4 linked regions of the Homo sapiens genome follow. The protein of the gene in region 4 interacts with the protein of the main gene of each other region in a pairwise test. Each region holds a gene or a part of one and is shown on either strand. Other genes may lie near its edges.

Region 1 (7,070 bases), on a different chromosome or scaffold from region 4:
CAGAAAAGCTGATGCCAGGGCTGGACCAGCCACAGCTTTTCATGTGGCCTGGGCTACCTGACCCCTCCTTTCCAAGCTACGAGGTTCCCATGGTTACAACAAGGGTTCATAGGCCAGGTGGGTGCTGGCCCACCTGGTTCTGTGATTGTCAGTCTCCAAGGGCAGGCTTCCTTCCCATCTCTACCCCCAGAGGGAAAGGCTTCCAGGAGGGAGAAATGTGAACAAAAGTAGGCAGTGGGGCCACGTGGTGGACCACAGGGGAAAGAATGTTCTCAGAGGCAGGCAACGTAGCTTGTAGCTCCCAACCCTGCCGCCGCCTGCCAGAGTGGCACTTCTACCCCTGAACCTCAGCAGCTTCAGCCAAACAGTGTGAGGTCCCTTCAAAGTCCCAAACCACACTGAATCCCCAGGAGACGTGACTTACTCTAGCAACAGTCTGGATACAGGGATTACCAACTAGCAAGCTGAGGGCACTGGAATCTATTTATAAAATATATGCATTTTACAATGCTCTTTGAGTTTCCCAAATCCTCATGGCACAGATGACCTGGGGGTGCCTGCATCGTGCATTTGAGTTTGCCCTTCATTAGTTCCTCTTCCAGAGTTGCTGACATTAGAATCGGGAGCTCTTTAAAAACACAAACTGCAAAAATCAAATTGCACTGGGTCTGGAAAATTTCCATCCCATTAAAATTGGGTTATTTGCACCCATTTTCTCATGAGGTCCTCAATCCATCCACAGCCTTTGATGCCTGATGCAGGTGGAAGCCCACAGCCAGTGGGGGTCTGACTCGGAAGCCACAGTAAGGCACACCACACCATGCCTTCCCTTCCACGCAACACCGCGGAAATCACTCTAAAGCAGGGCTCAGATCACCCTCCTCCTCCAAAACCATCAATGGCTCCCACTGACACAGAGTCAAACCCAAAGTCTTGGCCTAGAATTCAAAGATTTCATGATTTATCCTCTTCTGACCCCTCTAGTCACATTTCCTTTGCACGCTTTAAAAATAAAAACAAAAATGTAAAAGGCATTAGAAAAGTGCAAAAAACAAGGTTCCCTAATCTCAGTACCGGAGAAGAGAATACAATAAAAAAGGCTGTTGTCTCCTTTGGAGCCACTGGGTGAATCCCCTGGGAAAGTTCACGGTGTCACACACCTTGTCCCTCCCCCTTCCTGCGCTGGAGCAGCTCTCTCTGGACAGAGGCCCTTCCTGCCACCTCTGACCTGCCCCACCTGCAAGCTTTGACTCAGACACCCCCTCCCTTGCAAAGGGGACTCCCTTTGCAGGGACACCCTGACTCCCTCCCTTCCCTCCTGGGGGCTCCCACAGCTCCACAGGCGTCTACACCAACTTACTTTCTACCTGGCATTTCATTTACAAATCCATCTTATCTGCCAGGCTCAACTCTCAACCCCAGCCCCATTCACTGGGGCATGTCCTCCTTCCATCTCCCAGGCCCCATTACGGGAAGTGTTTTCTTCCCAGGCTCTTAGTGCAGGAGCTAGACCCCCTCTCACCGCAGGGCAGCAGGGATCCACTGGGGATAGTTCCCTGGGGCCTTACCTCACTCCTCTGTTACCCCAGCCTTGATCCTGCAGGAGGCAGCGCAGGATGTTTGTTCAATGGATTTTTTTTTTTTTTTTTTTTTTTTTTTGAGACGGAGTCTCGTTCTGTCGCCCAGGCGGGAGTGCTGTGGCGCGATCTCCGCTCACTGCAAGCTCCGCCTTCCGGGTTCACGCCATTCTCCTGCCTCAGCCTCCCGAGTAGCTGGGACTACAGGCGCCCGCCACTGCGCCCGGCTAATTTTTTGTATTTTTAGTAGAGAGGGGGTTTCACCGTGGTCTCGATCTCCTGACCTCGTGATCCGCCCGCCTCAGCCTCCCAAAGTGCTGGGATTACAGGCGTGAGCCACCGCGCCCGGCCAGTTCAATGGATTTTAAAAATTATTATTCTCTAGAAAAAAGACCACGAACTTTGGAGTGGACATCCTGAGACCTGCCTACGAAGACCATTAGGGTAAAGAAGTCACCCCTTCACCCCAGGACCAGGAAGCCTCCAGGATGGCATAAGCGACCAAACAGCTGGGAGCCAAGCACAGTGCAGGGGGCTTGGGGTCGGCGGCCGGAGGCTGGGGTGGGTAAGACCCGCAGGGAACTCCGGGGCTCGGGCGGCGGCTCATTCCCCGGGAAAGGGCTCGCGGTGGGGACCAGGGGCAGTAGCAGCCGCGGACCCCGCGCGCAGGGGATGTGCGGGGCATCCTCTTGGCCAGTTCCGACCTTCCCCGCCGGTGGCGATGCCCCGGACGCGTCGTCCTTTCCCAGACCTCCTCTTGGGGCCGAGGCTCCAGCCCCAGGGTCTGCGGGCGGGGCCGCGAACCTTGAAAGCCCCCGCCGCCAGCTCGCCCGCGGGACCCTGGCCCGGGGCGCCCTGTCCCGCGCCGCAGCGCAGACCCGCGACCGCGCAGGGCAGGCAGGGGGACGCCAGGTCCCTAAGCGCCCACTGCCCTGGGGCGCGGGCGCCGCCTGCGAGAGGCAGGGCAGGGCAGGAGCAGAGCAGGGACGAGGTCAGGGACACGGGCAGGGCAGGGCGGGCGTCCTCTGAACGGAGCCCGCGAGTCCCCGCCCGGGACGCTGCCCCCCGCCCGCTGCCACCGGGCGCCGGGGCAGGACCCAGCGGGGCAGGCGCGGCCGCAAGCCCCGAGCCCCAAGGCCGGCCGCGCAGCGCCGCGTCCCGCCCTCCCCGCTCCGCGGCCGGCCCGGGCGATGCGGACACAAAGGGGACGCGCGTCACTCTACCTGGGCCTGCTCGTCCGCGGTGCGCGGCTCTGACGCCTCCGCCCGGTACTGGCTGCGGGGTGCCGGGTGCCCGCAGTTTGCCGCCCGCGCCTCCCCGCGCCCGCGCAGCCCGCACGGCCCGCACTGCAATGCCAGCCCTGCCGCCTCCCGCCTGCCGAGAGCCCGCGCGGGGAGAAGCGGCTGCGCGGGCGGGGCGCGAGCGCGCACAGAGGCCGGGCACGCGGGAGGCTCGGCCCCGGCCCCGCCCCCGCGCCGAGCCGCACAGCGCCCCCTGCCGCCCGCCTGCGCCGGCCCGAGGCCCGGAGCCGCCCCGCAGGCCCCAGGACAGGCTCCGGCACGAGGAGGGGCTGCGGAGACCGCCCGTGCACGCTAACATGAAAATGCTATTCCTGCTTTAGTGGCCTCCAGAAGACACTCCCCTGATTCCTACACCGAGGGAACACACAGCAGCAAGCTAGGAAAGAAGGGGTGACCCAGCCCAACGCTGTAAACCAGGGCGCGAACCGGCGTTGAGCTGTGCAGCTGCGCCCTGGGCTCCAGTCCTGCTCTGCCGCAGACCCCACCGGAGCCAGCACCTGCCTCCCCGACCCTCGCTGGGGCGGCTGTGAGATGAGCCCAGAGCCTTCCTGAGCCAACCCTCGCAAGGAAAGTCTGTCTGTTCACCCCACTATCCTTGTCTTGAAGGATGAAGAAAAGAGGGCCCCCCGGGAGGTCCCAAAAGGTGGAATGGACATCTGGGATCCAAGCACAGCAATTTCTTTATTTTTCTTAAGGTATCCAGCTTGTTGGAATCTAAGATCTGCGAAGGTATTAATAGAATTCCTGCATCTTCTGCCACTCCCCATAGAAGCTTGAAGTTACACAAATGTTAAATTATACGTCAGATGTGCATATATGAACAAAACCTACGAGTGTGCATGAAATAACACCTTCTTAAATATATAGATTCTTTTTTCTGCAATATTAAATGGAAACCCCACTAGAACATCGTTTTTCCTTAATAGCATACCCTCCACACTGTGTGGTCTAAATTCAAGCTCTACCACCTACTAGCCATTAAGCAAGTTATTAAGGTCTTCGTGCTTCCATTTTCTTACGTGGAAAATGAGGTGGCAATAGTATGTATGAGTTCTTCGGAGGGATTAAACAAGTCAAATAGGCCAAGTGCCATGGCTTACACCTGTAAGCCCAGCACTTTGGGAGGCCAAGGCAGGAGGACTGCTTGAGCCCAGGAGGTCAAGGCTGAAGTGAGCTGTGTTTGCATCACTGCACTCCAGCCTGGGCAGCAGAGTGAGACTTTGTCTCTCAATAAATAAAGAAATAGTCAAATTAAATATAACTGGCAAACTAAAACAACTCCATAGTCCTTAGCTACAATTTGTCTCATTTCTCCAAAGAATTAAATCAGATGATTCTTAACTAACTCAAAGCTCTGCATAATTTGTCTTCTGCTACACATACATCTTTATAGTAAAATAAAATAAAGCTGTCCCCTCTGTATTGAGAAGTTATTCTGGTAAATATTTGACCTCTTCAAATATATGAACGAGCACTTGCCTTCTAATGCCTCAGTTTCAGATTCTTTTTAGAAATGTCATTATTCAAGAAAAATGCACAATGGGAAGAATCTTAACAACAGCACTTTGTTACTTCAGCCTCTCACTAGAGGATGAAAATCGTTCTGCATAAAGGCCTGGGCTTTATGAAAAATATATTCACACCTCCCGTGTCCGAGCTGGGATACCAAAGAAGTTCCTGGTTGAGTACTACTTATGAATGAAGGATTCAGGGGATGCACAGGTGGGTGACTGCAAATGCACAGACGTTGTGCTGTGTTCCCCACAATAAAGGGGTCTGTATTAAGATGCAGGCATTCTCATGGAACACAGACGTATAACACTCAAGCTGGGGGACTGCAAAGGAGCATCTGGGGCTGCAGGAAGAGAGTTAAGGTGCAAAAATGCCCTGACCCAACTGAGACTTGTAATTGCTCATGTGGTAATACATGTGACTTCATTCCCCTGCTCTGTCTTTGTGAATGCAACCATTGTTGGGGAGATAGTGAGAGGGGACACTGGCATTGAAAGTTTTGTTTGCAGCAGGCCTCAAAAGGCACTCAGATGCAGATTTCCCTGCAAAGACTTCCCGGCCTATCATGGAGTTCCCCATCCCTAGATCTCTGATCTCTGAGCTGGTGTAATACTTAGTCTTTGTCTGTGTTGATCATGGCATCTGCCACACTTAATGTTTGTGGCATTCACTTTCTGATGCTTAGATCTTACGATTCTAGAGAACAGCATTTTTCTACATATTCCCTCTTAGGGCCTTGAACATAATAAGTGCTCAATAAATACTGAGTGAAATCCTCTACTCTGAGCTTTGCCTCTGAGCAGCTGTCCTAGTTCTCTCCAACAAGAAGTTTGTTGGGTCTCTCAAGTTCACTTCCACCTGTCACTGTCAGTTTTCAGTCCAGCCCCTTACTCAGGTCTGGCTGGCCCATCTCCCCCAGAGGGCTGTCCCATAGAGCCCATTGTAAAGGACACTCATTGTTGCCAAGAGTTTGTGCCAATGCAGTATGACTCACCCTTCACTCATTGAACAAGCTCTTCCTGATTACCTAGATGGGCAAAATTTCCCTGCTCATGCGAAGCAGGCTGGCGACTCAGTGCTGCAGCAAATGGCCCAGAAGCTGGGAAAGCAGATAGCCGTTCTGACACTTCTCTTCTAGACAGAAAATCAAGGGAAGCTCAAGACCCACACTTGAATTTTTTTTAAAAAATTAGACAAGGGGCTGGGTGTGGTGGCTCATGCCTGTAATCCCAGCACTTTGGGAGGCCGAGGCAGGCAGATCACCTGAGGTTGGGAGTTCAAGACCAGCCTGACCAACATGGAGAAACCCCTGTCTCTGTTAAAAATACAAAATTAGCCAGGCGTGGTGGCACATGCCTATAATCCCAGCTACTCGGGAGGCTAAGGCAGGAGAATCGCTTGAACCCCAGAGGCAGAGGTTGCGGTGAGCCGAGATCGCACCACTGCACTGCAGCCTGGCAACAAGAGCGAAACTCAGTCTCAAAAAAAAAAAAAAAGAAAGAAAAAGAAAAAGAAAAGAAAAAAAATTAGACAAGGAAGTTTATGTGAATTTGTAATCACACATTCCATAAATATAGAAAATTCACTTTTTTTATTTTAAAAATTAACAAATTCCATTTCTTGTTTCTCTAGAGTAGCAGGAAATCAAATGTCAGTTCTCATTCTGACTTTCTCTCCTTAAGGACACAGAGGAATCTGGGGGATATTATGGTTCTGGGAATGTGGAATGTAACGTCTCATCTTCAGCCCATCTGTGCTACTGATCATCTCATTCCAGAAGCCATGCCTTCTCTCAGGAGCAGACAGCACAAGACTTTCCTGCCAGAGGCACAGTCCCCAGGTGAGCCACACAGCCTTCACAGGGTAATGCCAAAGAACAGAGGAGAGTTCCTGCTACTCTCCGGGTCTTCTTGGCAAAGCTTCTGATACAGTCTGGCTGTCTCTCCACCTGAATCTCATCTTGAATTGTAGCTCCCATAATTCTCGTATGTCATGGGAGGGATCAGGTGAGAGGTAACTGAATCATGGGGGTGGGTCTTTCCTGTGCCGTTCTCGTGACAGTGAATAAGTTTTATGAGATCTGATGGTTTTATAAAGGGGAGTTCCCCTGCAAATGTTCTTGCCTGCTGTGACTTTGCTCCTCCTTGCCTTCCGCCGTGATTGTGAGGCCTCCCCAGTTATGTGGAACTGTGAGTCCATTAAACCTCTTTTTCTTTATAAATTACCTAGTCTCAGGCATGTCTCTATTGGCAGTGTGGGAACAGACAGACTAATACAGCTTCCCTTGTCTGTACTCTTACCCTTCTCCCTTCAAAAGCATCCTCTCTTTCTTTTCCAACCTTTCCAACCTCTCGAATAATCTCTGCAGTGGGAGTAGCATCCACATAAGACAGGATGCAGAGATGTCTTCAAGCAGCTTCAAACAAAACTTCAAGAAAGAAAGTGCAAGTGAAAAAGGAAATTCATCCTTCCAGTCACTTAACACAGCACTGTCACGGACACCTTGTGCCTCCTTAAAATTCGTATACTGAAGTTCTAAGCCCCAGTACCCCAGAATGTGACCTTCTTTGGAAATAGGGTCATTGCAGATATGATTAGTTAAGAGGAGATCATACTGGAGTGGGCTTTAATCCAATATGACTGGTGTCCTTATGTAAAGGGGAAATTTGGACACAGACAC
Region 2 (7,022 bases), on a different chromosome or scaffold from region 4:
GACTCTGTCTCAAAAAAAAAAAAAAAAAGAAAAAAAAATTAAGTAAATAGTACGCTGCTCACAGATATAAAATGGTGCAGCCACTTTAGAAACAGTTTGACATTTTCCCAAAAAGTTAAACACAGAGTTACCATATGACCCAGCAATTTCACTCCTAGGCATCTATTCCAGAGAATTAAAAACATATGTCCCCAAAAAAATCTATGCAGGAACGTAACAGTTTATTTGTAATAGCCAAAAAGTGGAAACAACCCAAATGTCCATCAACAGATGAATAAACAAAATGTGGCCTATCCACAAAAGGGAGTATTATCCAGCCATAAAAAGGAATGAAGGGCTGGGCAGGGTGGCTCCCCTGAGGTCAAGAGTTCGAGACCAGCCTGGCCAAGATGGTAAAACCCCATCTCTACTAAAAATATAAAAACATTAGCCAGGCGTGGTGGTGTGCGCCTATAATCCCAGCTATTTGGGAGGCTGAGGCAGGAGAATAGCTTGAACCTGGGAGGCAGAGGTTGCAGTGAGCCAAGATTGCACCATTGTACTCCAGCCTGGGTGAGAGAGAGAGACTCCTTCTCAAAAATAAAAAAAAGGAATGAAGCACTGATACTTATTACACCGCGGATGAACCTTGAAGACATGATGCTCAGTGAAAGAAGCCAGACACAAAAGGCTATGTATTTTGTGATTCCATCCATATGAAATGTCCAAAACAGGCAAATCCACAGAGACAGAAAGTACTTTAATGGTTACCTTGGACTAGAGGGATGGGGAATCGAAGGTGACGCCTAATGGGTACCTTTCTGGGGTGATGGAAACGTTCTGGAATTAGACTGTGGTAATGGTTGCGCAACCCTGTGAATATACTAAAAACCACCGACTCATACGCTTTAACATGAACGTTATGATATATTAACTATATCTAGATAAACAAAACAGAAAAATAAATAAATACATTAGGCCGGGCACAGTGACTTCACCTGTAATCCCAGCACTTTGGGAGGCCAAGGCGGGTGGGCCACCTGAGGTCAGGAGTTCAAGACCAGCCTGGCCAACATGGTGAAACCCCATCTCTACTGAAAATACAAAAAATTAGCCGAGCGTGGTGGCGGGCACCTGTAATCTCAGCTACTTGGGAGGTTGAGGCAGGATAATTGCTTGAACCCGGGAGATGGAGGTTGCAGTGAGCCGAGATTGCACCACTGCACTCCAGACTGCAAGACAGAGCGAGACTGTGTCTCAAAAAAAACAAACAAAAACCATTAAAACCATCCAGATCTTTCTTCCTCCTCTACACACCTTCCTGGGTGAAATCAGAGAGAATTAAAGCCAGGACATCAGGCCCAGGAGTGTGTGGTGCCCGTGAACATTATCTATCACTCAGTCTGTATCACAGCAGAATCACGGACCACAGCCTGGACCTTGGGGTCTCCAAAGTCCAGCTGACCTAAATTCTTTTTATTTTTATATTAGAGATGGGGTTTCTCTCTGTTCCCCAGGTTGGAGTGCAGTGGCATGATCATAGCTCACTGCAGCTTTAAACTCCTGGGTGCTAGGGATCCTCCTGCCTTAGCCTCCCAAGCAGCTGGGACTACAGATGCATGCCACCATGCCAGGCTAATTTTTTTTGTTTTCATTGTTGTAGAGATGAGGCCTCACTATGTTGCCCAGGCTGGTCTCAAACTCCTGGGCTCAAGCAATCCTCCTGCCTTGGCCTACCAAAGTGCTGGAATTACAAACCCGAGCCACCATGCCCGGACTCTGACCCAAAATTCTAATCATGGCCATTTAGTAAAACCATGAGCCAAATATACTAGCTTGTATACCAGGCCACCATTTGGTACAATGTATAGACTGCCCTATTTTAAAGGACTAGAGTCCGGGCAACTACCATTTATAGACAGCGCCTCTCCCCAACCCTATGGGCAGGAATTCTAAGTGCCACAGGTCCAGGGATGAGCTGGCAGTCCAGGGGTGAAGAGCTGGCACATGGAGTCCACCACAAAGCCCTTTGGCATCCACGCTGCAACCACCCTTCAAAACAGTCCTGTGTGTGTGAGGTCAGACTCCTCTCTCCCCATTTACAGATGAGAGAACAGAGGCTCAGAAGAGAGCAGCAACCTATCTAAGCCTCCTTCTTTCAGGTGGCAAACTTAAGATTGGAACCCAAGTCATCTGAAGATCAAATAAAACAATATTGCCCTGTGTACCAGGGGAGATCAAGCACAGGGTGGGCTCCTGTCCCCAGTTCAGGGCTTGCCCAGCCCTGGTTCTCAGATCCGGCCCCAGAGGTCATGCCAAATCGTCATTTATGACACTTTCTGTTAGCGAACACAAGGCTTCCTTGTATGGAGCTGCTGGCAGCCAGAGGCTCTGCTTCTTTCAGACAAGTTTTAATTAGAAGAGAGCATGGTGAATTGGGGAAAGCTGACACTCCCCACTGCAGCTTTGAAAGGGAATATTTGGATTAGAGCAAGATGTCTAAGAGGTTTCAGTTTGTTTTGCAAGACCAGACCGTTTTCATTAACCCTGTATTTTCGGGTTTAACATTTTAACTCCAAATCTCATTGCATAGGATGCTGCTTCAGAAACTAACACCAAATGCTTGATTGGCAGGAAACTTTAGAAATGGGGTCAAGGCAGCTAGGCGCGGTGGCTCATGCCTGTAATCCCATCATTTTGGGAGGCCAAGGCAGGTGGATCACCTGAGGTCAGGAGTTTGAGACCAGTCTAGCCAACACGGTGAAATCCCGTCTCTACCAAAAATACAAAAATTAGCTGGGCGTGGTGGCGGCCGCTTGTAATCCCAGCTACTCAGGAGGCTGCAGCAGAAGAATCGCTTGAGCCCAGGAGGCGGAGGTTGCAGTGAGCTGAGATCGTGCCATTGCACTTCAGCCTGAGGGACGAGAGCGGAAATCCGTCTCAAAAAAAGAAAAAGAAATGGGGTCAAGGCCAGCTCATAAAAGGGAAGGAAGTCAGTTCCCTACATGAACACATTAGTTAGGTCTGCAATTGCCTGGTCTGTACAACCTGAATTCATGACTTCTGCACTTTCAGCACTTGTGAGCCTCTCTAATTGTGGGTCAGGTATGTTATTTTTGCAACTAAGCAAGACAATCAAGCTTGAAGGATATGCTAACTCTTGTGAAAGCAGGGAAAACCTGTCAAACCAACAGGGCACACACCCTGGGACAAGCCATTCTTTCAGCAGCAAGACAGAACATGGCTCAAACCTCTCGAATCTGAGACTGAAAAGGTTGGATAAATACATATGTGCATTCTTGCAGAGGACAGAGGCTTCTGCAACCCGACCAGCTGGGATCAGAACGAGGCCATTTCAAAAGCTTACCTTCTCGTTTCCTGTAGATTCCGGCTAATGGTTTCCCCTGGCATTTGACTTCGTGATGTGTAACTGAGTTCTCTTCCTGAAGGGGGAAACGCATTCCAGAGCATTTGTTCGGGCTCATGTAGGAATAGATCTTTGACTGCCCGGTAAATACGTTCTCCTAAAAAGACAAAAGCATATTCTGAAAGAGGCTTGAAGAAGAAGATCCTAGAGCATTCACGAGGAGGAGGAATACAAAAGATGAAAATCAGACAACACCGTTTTTCAAAAACTGGGCTACCAGGGGATGCCAGCCCCCATTGTCTCAGGAGAGCACTGGCAGGTTTAGAATCCCAGGTCCAGTGAAACGTTTCCTAAACGCGCTGGTCTCTAAATCACTAAGGGGACAGCTGGCCAGCAGGAGAGTCGGCTGCAACCCAAGGTCTATATAGGAAGAAGACAGCCTACCCGCAACAGGGAGGTCAAAAGGACCTGGGCATGTGAAGAGCTAGGCTATCTTTAGGAGTTCACTGCCCTGGCAGGAGCCGCAGGGACTCAGCACAGAAACACGCCCCGGGGAACCTGATTAACCACTTGGTGCTGAGGGCGGCTGGAGGGCCTGTCAGCACAGCCAGAGCCCCATGAGCGCCGGAGCCTGACCCCTCTCAAATCACTGCAGCCCCGCAGCCTCCAGGGCTGCGACGGGAGGACTTCTCTCAGGGTGACTGGGGAATCTGGGAAGAGCAGGAGCCACAGCCAGCGCATTCGGGGCGGCCACTTTGTCGCAAGCCGCACCTGGGCGTCAGTAAGAGAGTGGACGGGGCGGTGGGGCGGTTCAGGTCACTGCGGGCGCCTCTGGGCGTGGGGCCCCTCCTCTGAGTAAGTACAGACGGAGGAGGGCGTCCCCAGAAGCAACGCCGGGCCCTCGCCGCCTCGGGGACCATTCAACACCGAGGCGGTGAGACCCGTGACCTCTCCGAGGGGCCCGCGCAGGCCCCGCACAGCCTGGGACCGCGGCCACCTCCGGGGAAGTAGGGTCTTGGGCTGCGGAGACGCCACGAAGGCGCAGTCAAACTTTTCCGAGGTCAAACACCGCCAGGCTCATGGCGGAGCCGTGTGGGCGCCACTCCCAGCCAGGCGGCAGCAAAGGAAGCGGCCCGGCCGGGCGCCCCGGGCGGGTACCCGGGGTCGCCCATGTGCTCGCGGCCCCGGCCCGGCGGGCGCGCCGCAGGGGTGCGGGGAGGGTGCCTGCTTACCCCGTCGGTGCGGGGCCTCCCCGGGCCCCTCCGCTCCACCATCTCCGGGCCCGGGGCCGTCGCTGCCACCGCCGCCGCCGCCGCCGCCGCCTCCACCGCGCGGGGCTTGGACATCTTCCTGCCTGGAGAAGGGGACCCGGGGGAAGCGGGGGAGGGGGCGCTCAGGGCGCGGCGGGGCGGGGAGCGGGGCCGCCCGGGCCGGGCGCCGCGACGGCGCCTCCCGCCGCAGCCATATTTCGAGGCCCCGGCTCTGGTGAGCCGCCCGCGCAGCCGGGAGGGCCGGGCCGGAGCCCGCGTCGCCCTCCCGCCGCCCGGCCCGGCCAGGCCCCGCGCGCCGCCCGCCCCCCGCGCGGCCGGGCCCGACACACCCACCTGCAGCCCGGCCAGGCCCATGGCGGCGCGCCCCGCGCCCTCGCCGCCGCCACCAGCGCCGCCGCGGCGCCCCGGGGAAGGGCCGGCGGCGCCCCACGGCGCCCCCTTCCCCCATGGCCGGCGAGGCAGGGCCCGGCACCCGCGCACCGCGGCAGCCCCGGGCCGCCCGGGGCGAGGCACGAAGGGAAGGAGGCGCAGGCGGCGCGTCCTCCGCAGCCCTCCCGCCCGCTCGCAGCCGCCCACCGTCCGGCGCCCGGCCCGGGGAGGGGGCTGGTAGGGGCGGCGCCGCCAGGCCGCTCCGGAGGGCGGGCGGGCGGGCGCGGCGAATCCCGGCTCGGGCGCGCCCCCTCTCGCGCGGCCTCAGCCACTCGCGGAGGAAGGGGTGGGAAACACCGTCATGACAGCCCAGGCTCCCGCCCGCCCTCCCGCCAGCCCGCCCGGCTCCTTTTTCCGCTGGCTCTGCGGATATTTTGGGAACCCGGTCTGTGCCAGACGAAATCAGCAGCGGTGAACGCGCCAGGCCAGGCCCTCGGGTGTGCCCGGCGCTGTGCCCACCGAGAGTTTCACAGGCATTGAATCCTCCCCGCACGCCCACGGGGGCAGGTCCTGTCGGCATCCCAGCTTACAATGGTGACACTGTGACTCAAGGGATGTGCAGGGGTTTGTCCCGGGCCACAGAACTAGGAAGTGATGGGGCCAGGTGTCAAACCCAGAAGGGCTGTACTTGACCGGTAGGAAGCCCTGGGGAGACAGAGCCAGGGGTTATAATGATCGGTTTCCTGGGCGAGTCTCTTGCCGTTATCTCACTGAAACCTCACAGCAGCCCTGCAAAGGTAGACACCATTATTATCTCTTTTCAACAGATGGAGAAAGTGAGGAGCTTGGCCAAGTTCTCAGAACTAGATGGGTTTTCAGCCCCAGCCAACTGACCCCAGGGCCTTGCCCTCCCAGCCACTACCCTTCCTGGTTACAGATGAGGAAATGGAGTTTGGGAGAAGCAAATGGTCTTGCAGAAGGGTTTAACATGTCACCTTGTTCTCCTATCCCGCCGTGAGAAAATGCCCCCATAGGCAGACGAGGTTCCCGTCACTCTGGTGGCTGTTTCAGCATAGCTCACTGCCCTGCACCACTACTCTGTGGCCATTAAGGCTTGAGGGCCCACAGCCAGATTCACTGTATTTGTGCAAAGTCATAGATGCAAACAAGACACTTCAAGGCATCCAGCTCCTGCAGCCTGGCCCATGGCCTGGGAGTCAGGGGCTGGACTTATTTCCCTGCATCTGCCCAGAGGTGTTTTGTGACCATCGCCAAGTCACTTCCCCAGTCTGGGCCTCAGTGTCCTCATGGGTAAAAACCAAGAACCTTGAATTCCATAATCCACCAGAGCACCTTCCAACATCCACAGATAAGCAAATGGCTGTTTGTAGCCATCCTCCCACCTAGCCTCCCTCGACTCCCATTGGAACGGATAAGACTGAGTAGGATTAGGTGGTGACAGGTCACTGCTCAGACAATCCCTCCCAAATCAGCTCATGCTTTAGCATCCTTCAAGGCAGGGTCTCCAGCCCAACCACTAACTCCAGTGGGCTAGGTACTCTGCCTATGCCCTCTGCAGAGCCTACTACAGTTGAATATCCAAAAGATTACCCAGAGGGTGAAAGAGGATTCGAAAGTGACACTCTGATAACCAGGTTGAGCCATTTGAAAGCGTCTTCTATTTCTGCAAGGCAGAGAAGTTTTGCAGCTTAACTGCCATGAGAATCATGGTTTTGGAGCAGGAAGCACCCACATAGATCATCTTATCCATTTCACATTCTAGTATACCGAGCCACACCCCACGCCCCACTCATGGTCATAGCTTTCTCTGCATTTGAGCCCCCAATTGCAGGGGACACATTACAAGTCTAGCACCTATTCCTCTCAATTCTGCAGCTCCAGTACCTAGAAGATGTAAATACAGATCATTCAATGTAAGTTTCAAAACAGTCCTTTCTCCGCAAGTTTATACGTATATAACAAATACACCAGCTGGGCGCAGTGGCTCACACCTGTAATCCCAGCACCTTGGGAGG
Region 3 (7,022 bases), on a different chromosome or scaffold from region 4:
AAGGGGCAGCAGAATAGTTCCAGAGAATTGGGGGATCTCAAAAATGAGGGGACAGATGTGACAACACAGCCATAGATGGGCGAAGAGATCTGAGATGATAACAGCTCCCAGAGGGCCCCAGACATAACTAGGAAATCTCAGATCTGACAAGAGGGAACCTTGGACAGGGCTCAGGGTTGCCAGCAGGGCCCCCACCCCAGATGAGATTCAGGGTTTACAGACACACAGCGATCTTAAAAACGTCCCAGGCCTCACTGGGGAATCAGATATCACAAGAAAATCCCAGAGAAGCTCTTGGGATTCTGGAAGAACTGCTACCCTGCCTCCCCGAGTATAGTGGTCCATAGGTCCTGTCACCCAAAACATGAGGATCCCAGGGAGTCTGTACATGACAAAGAAATCCCAGAGGACCCCAGGCACAAGTGGGGAATCCCAGACAGGCCCGGGCTGGGCTTGGGGATTATGGCAGGGCAGCACTCCCCTTACCCCAAAAGGTGGGGATGCGTAAGTCCTATCACCTAGAGTGTGGGGACGCCCTTTTTCTTCCAGGGGGATCCTGGCTGGGACGTGAGGTCCCCCAGCGGCTCCGCAGGTGGGAGCCTCGGGTGTGCTCAGGCCCGGCGGACTGCAGGCAGCAGCGCGCTGTCGAACTGGTAGGTGAGCTTGCGCTTGACCTTGCGGATCTCGCCGGTCTTGGCGTAGTTTCGGAGGGCGCGCGCCAGCTTCTGGTAGGTCATGCGCTTGCGGTTCCCCTTCTGCTGGCCCCAGCGGCGCGCCAGGAGTTCCTTGTGCTTGGAGGAGAACTGGAAGACGCCGGCGCCTGGCTCCACCCACCACACGCACTCACGCATGTCCCCGCGCGTCAGTAGCCCCAGCAGGAACTGGTACAGGCGCAGCTTCTTGCGAGTCCCTGCGGTGGGGTCGGGGGCACGCGTTAGGTGAGGGGTCCCTAAGGCCCCGCCTTCCCCATCCACCCTCCTCCGAGACTTCCACCCCGGCCTCCATCTCCTGGATCTGAAAAGTGGGGTGAGGGAAGTGGCTGTTACATACACCTGGCTCTGCGCCCCTCACCACGGGGGGGGGGGGGGGCAAGCCACTCCCCCTGCCCGAAGCTGTCAGCCCCAGGCCCCCTCCGCGTTCTGTGCTTTAATTTTCGAGATTTACATCTGTCCTGCCTTCCGCCCTGCGGCCAGCACGTAATATTCCATATTTGTTGAGCTAGTGGATGAAAGAATCTGTGAAATGGGTTGACAGCGCCGCTTAAAGGATTATAACGGAGAGGCGAACAGATCTGGAGGCAGTTGCATTGGCCTGGCTATCTCTCCAGCTCCTGGTCTCCCAGCCTCTCAGCCCAAAGCGGGACAGGGTCCCGGGAGAGGCCAGGGCACCTGACTCCTGGGCTCCTAGGGTTTAGTTTGTTTTTGAGACGGGGTCTTGCTCTGCGGCCCAGGCTGGAGTGCAATGGCGCAATCTCGGCTTACTGCAGCCTCTGCCTCCTGGGTTCGAGCAATTCTGCTGCCTCAGCCTCCCGAGTACCTGGGACTACAGACGTCTGCCACCATGCCCGGCTTATTTTTATATTTTTAGTAGAGACGGGGTTTCGCCATGTTGGCCAGGCTGGTCTCGAACTCCTGGCCTCAGGTGATCCGCCCACCTCGACCTCCCAAAGTGCTGGGATTACAGGCATGAGCCACTGCGCCCGGCCAATAACTGGGAGTTTCAAAGCAGGGCACTGGCTACAAGAATCCCATCTCTGCCATTTTACAGCAGTGTGACCTTGGGGTGGTGACGTAGTGACATCTTAATTTCTTTTTTTTCAAGGCAGGGTCTCGTTCTGTCACCCAGGATGGAGTGCAGAGGAGCAATCACAGCTCACTGCAGCCTCGACCTCCTGGGCCTAAGCAATCCTCCTGCCCCAGCCTCCCCAGTAGCTGGGACTACAAGTATGCACCATCATGCCTAGCTAATTGTTTTATTTTTTGTAGAGATGGTGTCTTACTATGTTGCCCAGGCTGGTCTTGAACTCCTGGCCTCAGGTGATCCTCCCACCTCGGCCTCCCAAAATGCTGGGATTACAGGTGTGAGCCACTGCACCCGGATTGAATTCTTATAATTTTAGGCTGCCTCGGCATTCATCGAAAGTATAAGTTGGAGGCTGGGCGCGGTGGGCCATGCCTGTGATCCCAGCACTTTGGGAGGCCAAGGTGGGCAGATCACTTGAGGTCAGGAGTTCGAGACAAGCCTGGCCAACATGATGAAACCCGGTTTCTACTAAAAATACAAAAATTAGCTGGGTGTGCTTGGCTCATGCCTGTAATCCCAGCTACTTGGGAGGCTGAGGCAGGAGAATCACTTTAGCCCAGGAGGCAGAGGTTGCAGTGAGCTGAAATCATATCATTGCACTCAGCCTGGGCAACAAGAGCGAAACTCCCTCTCAAAATAAAATAAAATAAAACTAAATAAAAGTTGGACATTCTCATGCTGGAAGCAGGGCTGTCCTCCTTGGCAGTTCTACATCTCCCTCCCCGAGTTCCTCAGTGTGGCTGACCCAGATATCTCTCTTATGCAACTGACTCCTGGTGACCACCTCCCTGTGGGAGAGCCATGGACAGCCTACTTGACGGCCCTGCATGGACTGTGCAGATGCCTCAGTGACCCCCTCTCAGGCACAGCGTGACCTCCTGGAACTTGATCCTGCTTGCTTTCAACCCACCAAGTATTTATTTATTTATTTATTTTGAGCTGGAGTCTTGCTCTGTTGCCCAGGCTGGAGTGCAGTGGCATGATCTCAGCTCACTGCAAACTCTGCCTCCTGGATTCAAGCGATTCTCCTGCCTCAGCCTCCCAAGTAGCTGGGATTACAGGCGTGCACCACCAGGCCCAGCTAATTTTTGTATTTTTAGTAGAGACGGGGTTTCACCATGTTGGCTAGGCTGGTCTTGAACTCCTGACGTTAGGTGATCTACCAGCCTCAGCCTCCCAAAGTGCTGGGATTATAGGCATGAGCCACTGTGCCTGGCCTGAACCCACCAATTAAAACCCCCTCAGGAAACCTGTTTGGCCGACGCCTTGGACCCAATAAAGGCGTCAGTCCACTGGTCCCTCTCTCTCTCCCTCCCTGCCTGCGCTCCCTGACCTGGTGTGTGTGGCCTCCAGGCGTGCCATGTATGCCCCAGGACCTATAAGCCATAAAATAATTTATTTCTGGCTGGGTGTGGTGGCTCATGCCTGTAACTTCAGCACTTTGGGAGGCTGAGGTGGGAGGAGCACATAGGCTCAGGAGTTGGGAGTTCAGCCTGGGCAACATAGCGAGACCTCACCTCTACAAAAATTTTAAAAATTAGTCAGGTGTGGTGGTGTACGCCTGTGGTCCTAGCTACTCAGGAGGCTGAGGCAGGAGGATCGATTGAGCCCAGGAGTTTGAGGCAGTAGTGAGCCGAGATTGCGCCACTGCGCTTCAGCCTGGGTGACAGATGGAGACCGTCTCAAATAAATGAATAAAAATAAATAAAATCTTTATTTCCATCTTGTGTCTTTCCTAGTCATTGGAGAGATCCTCTCCATCTTAAATGTCCTAAGTTAAAATAGGTGACTTAATTAACCTCTCTGAGCTGAAGTCTCTCAGCCACAAATGAGGCTGTGTGGCTGGGCACAGTGGCTCACGCCTGTAATCCCAGCACTTTGTGAGGCCGAGACGGGCGGATCACCTGAGGTCAGGAGTTTGAGACCAGCCTGGCCAGATGGTGAAACCCCATCTCTACTAAAAATACAAAAAATAGCTGGGTATGGTGTGGGTGCCTGTGATCCCAGCTACTGCGGAGGCTGAGGCAGGAGGATTGCTTGAACCCAGAAGGTGGAGGTTGCAGTGGGCCGAGATCGTGCCACTGCACTCCAGCCTGGGTAACAGAGCGAGACTCTGTCTCAAAAAATAAATTAATTAATTAATTAAAATTTTTTAAATGAGGCTGTGGTTTTGTTTGTTTGTTTTTGAGACGGAGTCTTGCTCTGTCACCCAGGCTGGAGTCCAGTGGTGCAATCTCAGCTCACTGCAACCTTTGCCTCCTGGGTTCCAGCAACTCTCCTGCCTCAGCCTCCTGAGTAGCTGGGATTACAGGCATGTACCACCATGCCCCATTAATTTTTTTTTCTTTCTTTTTTCTTTTTTTTTAAGACAGAGTCTTACTCTGTCGCCAGGCTGGACTGCAGTGGCAAGATCTCGGCTTACTGCAACCTCTGCCTCCTGGGTTCAAGCGATTCTTCTGCCTCAGCCTCCCGAGTAGCTGGGACTACAGGTGCACACCACCACGCCTAGCTAATTTTTGTATTTTTAGTAAATGTGAGGTTTCACCATGTTGGCCAGGATGGTCTCGATCTCTTGACCTCGTGATCCATCCTCCTCAGCCTCTCAAAGTGCTGGGATTAAAGGCATGAGCCACCATGCCCAGCCTAATTTTTGTGTTTTTAGTAGAGACGGGGTTTTGCCATGTTGGCCAGGCTGGTCTCGAACTCCTGACCTCAGTTGATCTGACCGCCTCAGCCTCCCAAAGTGCTGGGATTACAGGCGTGAGCCACCACACCCAGCCTGTGTGTTGATTTTTACAATGCACCGTGGAGCATGTAGTGCCAGGTGCTTCACAAGGCACTTTACAGTTATGAGCTCATTGAATCTCCATCATAACCCCGTGAGATGGGGAGGATGACAGTGATGCCCACTTTACAGACGAGAAACCGAGGCCCAGACACAGAAAGGAAGGAACGATCTCAGCTTTCTTGGGGTTGAGCATAAAGGATGTTGGGCACACGGGCAGGGGGCAAGGGTTGAACCGTTGGGGGTTGATAGCATTATCATTTCTGTTGCTGTGGTGTCGGGAATGATGGTGAAGAGGTTGACTTATTGAAGTGCTCACTCTGTGCCTGGCACTGCTGTCCCATTTACACTTACTATCCCATTTAGTCCCCCCAACGACCTCAGGAGGGTAGACACTATCACCTCCATCCCCATCGCACAGACAGGAAACCTGGGCACAGAGAGGTAGAGGCACTTACCCAAGGTCACACAGCCAGCAGGTGGTGCGGATCTGGGAGCTGCCCAGAGTGCTGGAGTATATGTAGAGGCCCAGGAAGCCATGGTGCTCTCAGCCCCCCCACCATCTCCAGCTGGCATCTCCCCCACCCCAGCCACTCCCGCATACCTGCCTCGGATCCCTTCCCCTCGGGGCCAGCCACGAGGGCCTCATCCGACTCGCTGTCCGAGACCTCCAGGGCAGGGCTGTCCAACGGTAAGTCTTCCTCCTCTGATAGCACAGGGCTGGGGTACGGGGCATATGCCGGGGGAACCAGGGTCTGCGGAAGGTCAGGGTCACCTGCATGTCCAGGGACCCCTTGTCTCCCTCCACTTCCTCCTCTCAGGCCAAGGCGGTGGCCCTCCTGGCTCTGGTCTCCCTCTTTGTTGACAGCCTAGATTTTGGCCTTTGTTCAGATCACCACGCTGTGGCCAGGGGACACCTGAGGTACCTCCTCAAAGCCGGCCCAACACAGGTAATGCGAGTCTGCCCTGTCCCTGGCTTCCTGTCACTACCTCTCTTGACTCACTTGTTCAGAGGGGCAACAACGGAACGTAACCTGGGAGGCCGCTGCAGGGCTTACTATGTGCAGTCTCAATGCAGTGCCCGGCACCCAGCAAACCTCAACCAAATGACTGAGCTTGAGTTTTCTTTTCTTTTTCTTTTTTTTTTTTTTTTTTGAGACAGGGTCTTGCTCTGTTGCCCAGACTGGAGTGCAGTGGATTGCCTCGACCTTCTGGGCTCAAGCAATCCTCCTCCCACCTCAGCCTCTCAAGCAGCTGGGATTACAGGCGTGCACCACCACACCTGGTTTGGGCTTGATTTTAACTGTCCCCTTACCACTCACCTGGCTAGCGAAGTTCTCCGTGGGGTATGCAGGGAGGCCAGGCCCCGGGGCCTCCAGGCTGGGGGCCAGTTCGAGGTTCCCTGCAGGGCTGTAGGTGGGGGGTTCGTAGCAGAGCTGGGCAGCCTGGGGGTGGCTAAAAGCGGCTGCTGCCGGGTCGAAGGCTTCATAGGGGGTGGCTGGGACAGGTGGGGCCACAGTCCAGTCCCACAGGGAGTCTGGGGGAAGGGCACTGAGTCAGAAGCTGGGATGTCTCACGGAGGCCTCCTCGCAGTCGAAGCCCCCAGCACAGAGAGGCCATTGTAGGCTGTGCAAATCTCTGACCCCAGGATTTGCATGGAGGAGCGGATGGGTAGGAGAGGAAAGGGGAGGAGGGCTATAGGCCCGGGCCACCTTTATCCTGTTGTGCTAGGAAATGACCTCCCCTGGGCCTCAGCTCCCCTATCTGTGAAATGGGCCCCAAGGCAGGAAGGGCACAGGGCTGGGGTCACTCACCAGGAGCCCCCTCTGAATCAGGGTAGCTGGAATGCTTGCAGCTGTCCAGGTCATAGAAGACGCCATCTGGGTACTGATACGGGGTGCAGGAGGGAAGAGGGGTCATCCCAGGCCTTGGGGACTCCCAACCCCCACCCTGGACCCTTGGGGAGACTCCAACACAGACATGGGAGAGAAGAGGGGATGCTGGAGAGATTAGAGCAACAAAGAAACACAGAGACTAGGCATCAGAGACAGGGACAAAGAGACAGAGATACAGAGAGTAGAGACACAACCCAATAGGGGCACACAGCAGCCAGCTCCTGCTAAGACGGTGGGCTCCCAAGAACCCTGGCCCCTCACTGGCACACAGTCAGCGAATCAGGGCGCCTGGAGAAGGGGTGGAAGAACTCCCCCAGCCTTGCCTGCCTGGGGGCTCCGGAGGTGAAGGGCAAGGGGAAATGGAAGTGTTTCACTTAACAGAGGCAGGGGTCAATGCTTTTTAAATACACCTCCAGGCCAGGCGTGGTGGCTCACGCCTGTCATCCCAACACTTTGGGGGGCCGAGGCGGGCAGATCACCTGAGGTCAGGAGTTCAAGACCAGTCTAGCCAACATGGTGAAATCCCGTCTCTACTAAAA
Region 4 (7,022 bases):
TGGAACCAGAGGTTTGGGGGTTGGGCTTGGGAGAAAAAACAAGTCAAGACCTGAACCCCATTTCTGAGGGGCTCTCGACTCTGTTCATCCCTATGCCCCAGCCTCCTCCAACTGGAGTAGCCTCAGTCCTGACTCCCTCCCCTGCCTGGTTTCTCTTAGGATTTATGCCAAGGGCTATAGGTCAGCTCTTTAAACCCTGTAGAAATGGAGAGAGGAGGCTGGAGTACTCCTATCTCAGATCTGGAAGGAGTCCGGGATCCCCCTACTTAGCTCCCAGGGGACTGCCCTAAGCTAGAAGAAGTGGATATTGGGATCTCTGACTCAAGAGGAAGAATCTGAGGTTCCCTTTGGCCTTTACACCTCCCAGATGTCATTCTCCACTCTGCCCCGCATCACGTTCTCCGATTACTTCAGCAGGTACACGGCGCTCTTCCTCACCATACATTGGCTCTACCCCCAGCAATAAGCCTATTGGATGTTGCTCTTGGTCCGCCTCAGCCCTTGTGCCCATTGGATGTTGCTCTCAGCCCCGCCCCTGCCACTCACACCCACTGGCTATTGCCTCTGGCTCCGCCCACAGCACAAGTACCCATTGGAGGGTACCACTGGCCGCCCAGGCACTCACACCCACTGGATGTTGTTCTTGGCCTTCTTGCGGATGAGCTGGATGCCTTCCAGCACGTTGGTGATGTCATAGATGCGCCGCTTCTGCACGTCCAGCACCTCAGCGGCCCAGTTCAGGTCCAGGACCCCATCCTCTGACTCGCTCAGGAGGTAAATGAACTTCTTGGTGAGCAGCCCCAGCGAAGTGTCATACCGAGTCTTCTCCCCGGGGGATTTGGGGGCTGAAGAAGAAAGGGACCCAGTCACAGCTCAGGGAGGGGAGGGCCCGCCCAGGACCCTCGTCCATTGACCTAGGCTCATTAAGTACCACCTTTCACCACCCACTTTCCAGTTTACAAAGCAGTGTGAGCCAGGGCATCCATCACCACCACTGTCCAGACAGGGAACCTGATACCTAAGAGGGAAGGTGACTTGCTTAAGGTCTCACGGCCAATGGGCAGTGTTGGAAGCCTAGTGTCCTGACTCCTGGTTAAATGCACATTTCCACCACAGCTTAGGGCTGCCAGACCACCACCCACAACTACTGTCACTGTTCTAAGTGCTTTCCATGTACGAACACATTTAAGCCCTACAACACCCTGTAAGGGTTGCTGTACAATCATCCCCATTTTATAGATGAGAATACTGAGGCACAGTTTAAGTAATTTGCTCAGCTCACTCAGCTAGAAAGTGGCAAAGCTGGAATTCAAATCCAGGCAGTCTGACTCCAGAGTTTTCCTTAACCATTACCCTATCCTGCCACTTAAATGTCCGGAGTTTGGAATTAGAATAGGGTAGAAATGATAAGCCTGGATTTAAGAGCATTTTTATAGACACACACTTGCTTTTTCTTCCCATGTGAATCACAATGATTATCTGAGAAAAATCGGTCCTGTAACATCAAGTCGGGGAGGTTCATGAGAAAGGTCCCTTTCTCAATGAGGTTGATGTTGCAAGACCACATCTCAGCTGCAGCATCTTAAACCACGAGGGGACTTTTGTAATCGAGTGACTTCCAAGTCATATAGCAAGTTAGTGGCCAATCCAGTAATTCTGGAACCTGAATTTTAGAGTCTTAGGTTCCTCTGGAGGAGGACCAGTTATCATGAGCCTCAGGATCCTTCAAGACAGTGCTCTGGGCAGCCTTGACCAATCAAATGTAGAGGAAACTTTCTTGCCATTCCTGATCTAGCTGTGTCTTCTTTTACACAAGACAACTAAGGTTCACAACAACTAAGGTTCACAGGAGTGACCTGTCAGGTCGGAGCAGAATCCTACCTGGACCCCCAAAACTAGTGTTCCTCCCAAACACAGTTGCTTTAACTCCTGCTCTAACCAGGATTTTTTTTTTTTTTTGGAGATGGAGTCTCACTCTCTCTCCCAGGCTGGAGTGGAGTGCAGTGGTGCGATCTTGGCTCACTGCAACCTGCCTCCCAGGTTCAAGTGATTCTCCTGCCTTGGCCTCCTGAGTAGCTGGGATTACAGGCATGCGCCACCACACCCGGCTAATTTTTGTATTTTTAGTATAGACGGGGTTTCACCACGTTGGCCAGGCTGGTCTGGAACTCCTGACCTCAGGTTATCTGCCCACCTTGGCCTCCCAAAGTGCTGGGATTATAGGTGTGAGCCACCACGCTCAGCCTATCCAGGATATTGACTGAAAATATCAAGAGGCAGCAACCCCCTCCAACTTAGCTTTAGGAAGGCACCACCTGGGCAGCCTCTGGATCTTAAAAACCTTTGGGGTGGCAGAGACTGGATTAATCTGTGCTTCCCTTCCCTTTGAATCACTTATTCAGCTCCTTGTCTGCATGTGGGAGAAAGACCCTGGTTAGCCCCTGCTCTTCTGATTTAGAAAAATTTACCTTGACCTAAACATTAAAACGTTTTAAAAATAATAAATTCCCAAATAAAACACTGGTCATTGAGTTTAGATCATGAGAGCAGTACATGGTATGGTAGAAGTAGTGCGAGACTGGCCAGGCATGGTGGCTCACGCCTGTAATCCCACCACTTTGGGAGGCCGAGGCGGGTGGATCATTTGAGGTCAGGAGTTTAAGACCAGCCTGGCCAACATGGTGAAACTGTGTCTCTACTAAAAATACAAAAATTAGGCAGGGATGGTGGCATGTACCTGTAGTCCCAGCTACCTGGGAGGCTGAGGTGAGAGAGTTGCTTGAACCCCAGAGGTGGAGGTTGCAGGGAGCCAAGATGGCACCACTGCAATCCACATTTGGTGACAGAGCGAGACCTGTCTCACAACAACAACAACAACAACAACAACAACAACAAAAAAAAACACAGAAGTAATGCAAGATTTACATGTCCAGGCTCTAGTCCTGACTCCACTCTGAGACTATGGGCAAGTCACTCAAGCTCTCTGAGTCTCAAGTTGCCTGATTAGTAAAGACAGACAAGCCTACCTACCTGGCAGGATCAAATAATAAAATACGCAGGAAGCTTTTGTAAACTGGAAAGTGATCCAAATATGACTACCAGTGATTGGGCAGGGCACTGCCCTCTGCCCCTGCCCCACCCCACCCCAGAGGCCCCATCAGCACTGCTTACTTTTGGGGCTGGGGAGGCCATCCACTCTGATGCACTTCCCCTTGGGGGTTGGGAACTCAGGGACGACGGGCCTCCCAATCCCCTCCAGATCCAGCTTCCTTTTGGCCTTGGAGAAAAGGGGGAGAGAGAGGCAGAGTTTGAGAATCATTCCTCCTTTAGCCTTTCCCTGATGTGGGGCCAAAGCAATGAAGCCACTTAGCAGCCACCTCTGTGCCTCAGTTTACCGCCAGTCCTGGTGAAGCACTGCTGTACTTGATAGGAAAACATCAGTGACCTGAGAAGTGAGCTTTCAGGGGAAATCTTGTTTTCTGAAGGGCAAATAAAACTCCCATCCTCTGAGGCCCAGGCACTTGAGACCCTACCAAAGCCAGTCTGGCCAAGGGCTCAGAGCTCCTTAACCACGGGCCCTAAGCCGGCTCCTATACCTGCTCCTCACCCCACCACACCCAGAGGATGATACCAGGAGGAAGCAGTGGGTGGGGCCTAAACCACATCAGGGTGGGGAAAGGGCCCCCCTACAGAAGCAGCTGGCCCAGCTAGACTGAGTGCCCATCACAGTCCCACAGCTGGTCCTTATCAGGGCGGGGCTGGGCATCCGCCCAGACCCAGGGGACTTCCTGGCTCAGTGCCACAACCCAGGGAGGTGCCCACAGTGGGAAGCAGTGCAAACATCCCCACCCCCATGTTTGGGCTCCAGCTTGAGGGCCCCAGGGCCTCCTGAATAGACTGCATTTGCCATTCTTTCTTTGCCGAGAGGGGCAGACAATGAATCCTTCCCGTGTCTTAAGGACAAGCAGCTGAGGCCACCCCCCCCCTCCAGCTCCCCCTTTCTGTTCCCGCCAAGCTTGGGAAACACCTGCTGGGGAAATCAAACCACAGACCCATCTGCTCCTCTCCACCCTGTTGCCACCCGGGCCCCAATTAGGCCCAGAGCTGCACTGGCCCGGAAAGGGCCTCTCTCCTGGTTAGGGCTGGGCAGGGGCAGGGCAGGGGCAGAGCTGGGGCACTGGGACACTGGGACATAGGTCAGAGACCCATGCTTGAATCTCCAGCTCCTTCGCAGGCTCACGGTACAAGTTGGGGGAAATGTTACACATCTAAGGAGCCTCAGTTTCTTCCTCTGTAAATGGGGTAAAAATGCCTACCTCAAGGGGCTATTGTAAGGATTCAAGGAAGGCACTACCTGGGCAGCCTCTGCATCTTAAAAACCCTGGAACAGGCTGAATTAATCCCCGCGTGGCTTCCCTTTGAAGCACTTATTTAGCTCCCTGTCTGCATGTGGGAGAAAGACCCTGGTTAGCTCCTGCTCCTTTAACTTCTGTAAAGTTCTCAGCCTGTGTCTCAGCACACAGTAGGTGTTCAGGAAACACAGAGTCCCTTCCCTAAAATCTAATCTCGACCTCTTCCTTCATACATCCTTCTGGGGGTCATCGAGCCCATTTCTTTCCTCTTTCCAACTCTGGATCCCCCAGACACCCCTACCCTGGCTTGGACAGAGAGGCCTATTTTAACATTTAGTGGTGAGGTCATGCTCAGCAGGGCTGAGACTTCTAACTGCTGCTGAGCACAGCTGGGCTGACAGGTGTTGGAGGTGGTGACAGCTCTTCCTGCTGTCAGTTCCCCTTCCCCCACTCCTGCCCCCTCCAGGAAGTCTTCCTGGGCTGATGTGAGGAGCCCTGCTCCTTGGTTTGAGGAGCCTGGATATAACACTCTTGCTTTCCACCACTACCGAGACCTGGAAACCATCCAAACACTTTACTGCTCATTCTTGAATGAGTCTCTTGAATATTCCTTTTCTACCTTCCTAACTGGTGAAATCCTATATTCTAGAGATTTAGCCCCATGCTGTCACTAGAGAAAGGGCCAGTCACTGGCTGAGACCTTCCACATGCCCTGAACCACGCCCCAACATTCATCACTTCACTGAATCTTCCCATACCACTAATCCCCATTGTACAGCTGAAGTAATTGAGGCTTGGGGAGCTCCGAGGCCTCCATCAATCCTGACCAAGGCTGCACATCCTAGTATTCTTCATATATCCCCCAGCAGGAGCACCAAGGGCAGGGAGAGGAAGGGAAGCTCAGGTGGAGTTCTACCTGAGGCAGAGGTGGGGCAGCCCAGAGCCTCCCCAGCCACACCTGTCTCCCCCGCCAGAACAAACCAGAAAGAATCCCAGGAAGACCTTGAACAGAATATCTATGCTGAGCCTGTTACATGCTCGTAACAGTCCTACCACATCAGTATTGGCACTGGCTCTCGGAAGCCAAAAAATGGAGACTTACAGAGAGTAAGCACATGCCCAAGGTCACACAAAGGCCGGAGCCAGGGTTTGAACCCAGGCCTGTCTGACTGCAAAGCCATGTACCAGGCTGCCTCAGCTGCATCCCACACACGCTGCCCCAGGATTTGCTAGAATTTGGGCCAAGGCCTGGGCTACGCCCACCTGCCCCCATCACTGCATGTACTTGCACACACACACACACACACACACACACACAGCCTTCTCTCTTTTCTCACTCTCCTTCACCCTTATTCTGCACTCCCAGGGTCCCAATGCGGCAAGTGTCCCCCTAAGGATACCTCCCTGACACCTTTGGACAGTGCCCAGAGGAAAGTCAGCCTATGGCTTGGGCTGAACCTGCAGAACACAGGTGGCAGAGGACAAGCCCAGGAGGATCAGCATCAAGGTGAGGCTGAGCACAGGTCTTGGAGTCAGACTGGCCTGGCTTTGCATCTAGGCCTTCCCCTTCTTAGCTGGGAAATCAGTTGACGTCAAGTCACCTATAAAATGGGCATCATTGTCTCCACCTATGCTGAGGATTCAGTGAGATAGTGCAGCAAAGCGCTTTGCCCATAGGGAGTGCCCCCACCAGGGAGCTGCTAGCACTGATGTATGGGGAGCACCAGTGGGAAAAGGGGAAAGTTCAAGGGTGAGCTGAAAAGAGACTGCGATGAGGGGAGGAGAGCAAAGGCTATGGCCACAGCCAGAGGCCAGCTTAGCCCTATCCTGGACGCTCTTAGGCAGCCCCTTTGGCTGGATCTTCAAGGCCTGGTCAGGACGCAAGCCCACCCTGCCAACCCCTATGGAGAAGAGTACAGCTCCTTCCTCAGGCAGCTGCAGAAGTGCAGAGGGTCAGAGATCACCAGGCACAACCCCCTTACGGGCACCACGGTGAGGAAACTGGGACTTGGGGAAGAGGAATTGACTTGCCCAAGGTCACGCAGAGTGGAGCCTGGTCTCTCCTAAGCCCTAAGTCAGATGGTGGGGGTAGGAGCAAATGTAAGGGGTCGAACCTTGCTTTCAGATCCCAGCTCTGCCACTTCGTAGCTGAACAGCCTGGGATTCACTGTCTTGCCTCTCTGAGCCTACACCTCCTCACCTGACCTGCCTTGTAGAGTTGTGTGTTAAAATGTTTATTTTCTTTCATGCCTCACAAGAGGAAATCTGGAAAATGTAGACAAATTGAAAGAAAAGGAGGACCGGGCGTGGTGGCTCACGCTTGTAATCCCAGCACTTTGGGAGGCCAAGGCGGGTGGATCACCTGAGGTCAGGAGTTCGAAGCTAGCCTGGCCAACATGGTGAAACCCCATCTCTACTAAAAATACAAAAAGTAATCCCAGCTACTTGGGAGGCTGAGACAGGAGAATCATTTGAACCTGGGAGGTGGAGTTTGCAGTGAGCAGAGATGGCGCTATTGCAAGCCAGCCTGGGCAGAGCTTCCTGCAGGCGTGAAAGAGAATGATGCCATGCGCCTGGCCAGAGGAGGCATGCGATAAAGGGGCATTCCCTGAGCCTTCCTCAGAGGACTTGGAAAGAGCTCTGGACAGGGAGCCAGGAGATCTGGGTTGT

What was found.
Region 1: the proteins of E2F2 (region 4) and RNF144A interact in a two-hybrid assay, tested with the Homo sapiens proteins (one study listed by BioGRID).
Region 2: the proteins of E2F2 (region 4) and KMT5A interact in a two-hybrid assay, tested with the Homo sapiens proteins (one study listed by BioGRID).
Region 3: the proteins of E2F2 (region 4) and SPIB interact in a two-hybrid assay, tested with the Homo sapiens proteins (one study listed by BioGRID).

Annotation. Positions count from the first base shown.
Region 1 is NC_000002.12:6,913,353-6,920,422, reverse strand, and holds the start of RNF144A (E3 ubiquitin-protein ligase RNF144A), read right to left. Parts: upstream 3,012-7,070; 5' UTR 2,801-3,011; intron 2,022-2,800; exon of another isoform or gene 1,741-2,021; intron 1,630-1,740; exon of another isoform or gene 1,569-1,629; intron 1-1,568. UniProt on the Homo sapiens protein: E3 ubiquitin-protein ligase which accepts ubiquitin from E2 ubiquitin-conjugating enzymes UBE2L3 and UBE2L6 in the form of a thioester and then directly transfers the ubiquitin to targeted substrates.
Region 2 is NC_000012.12:123,387,111-123,394,132, reverse strand, and holds part of KMT5A (N-lysine methyltransferase KMT5A), read right to left. Parts: intron 5,223-7,022; exon of another isoform or gene 5,066-5,222; coding exon of another isoform or gene 4,951-5,065; intron 4,701-4,950; coding exon 4,579-4,700; intron 4,097-4,578; exon of another isoform or gene 3,791-4,096; intron 3,504-3,790; coding exon 3,347-3,503; intron 2,859-3,346; exon of another isoform or gene 2,703-2,858; intron 1-2,702. UniProt on the Homo sapiens protein: Protein-lysine N-methyltransferase that monomethylates both histones and non-histone proteins. Specifically monomethylates 'Lys-20' of histone H4 (H4K20me1).
Region 3 is NC_000019.10:50,421,926-50,428,947, reverse strand, and holds part of SPIB (transcription factor Spi-B), read right to left. Parts: intron 6,476-7,022; coding exon 6,403-6,475; intron 6,126-6,402; coding exon 5,911-6,125; intron 5,344-5,910; coding exon 5,193-5,343; intron 911-5,192; coding exon 612-910; 3' UTR 1-611. UniProt on the Homo sapiens protein: Sequence specific transcriptional activator which binds to the PU-box, a purine-rich DNA sequence (5'-GAGGAA-3') that can act as a lymphoid-specific enhancer.
Region 4 is NC_000001.11:23,521,212-23,528,233, forward strand, and holds part of E2F2 (transcription factor E2F2), read right to left. Parts: exon of another isoform or gene 6,194-7,022; intron 5,860-6,193; exon of another isoform or gene 5,719-5,859; intron 3,568-5,718; exon of another isoform or gene 3,378-3,567; intron 3,278-3,377; coding exon 3,172-3,277; intron 846-3,171; coding exon 626-845; exon of another isoform or gene 375-625; coding exon of another isoform or gene 361-374; intron 1-360. UniProt on the Homo sapiens protein: Transcription activator that binds DNA cooperatively with DP proteins through the E2 recognition site, 5'-TTTC[CG]CGC-3' found in the promoter region of a number of genes whose products are involved in cell cycle regulation or in DNA replication.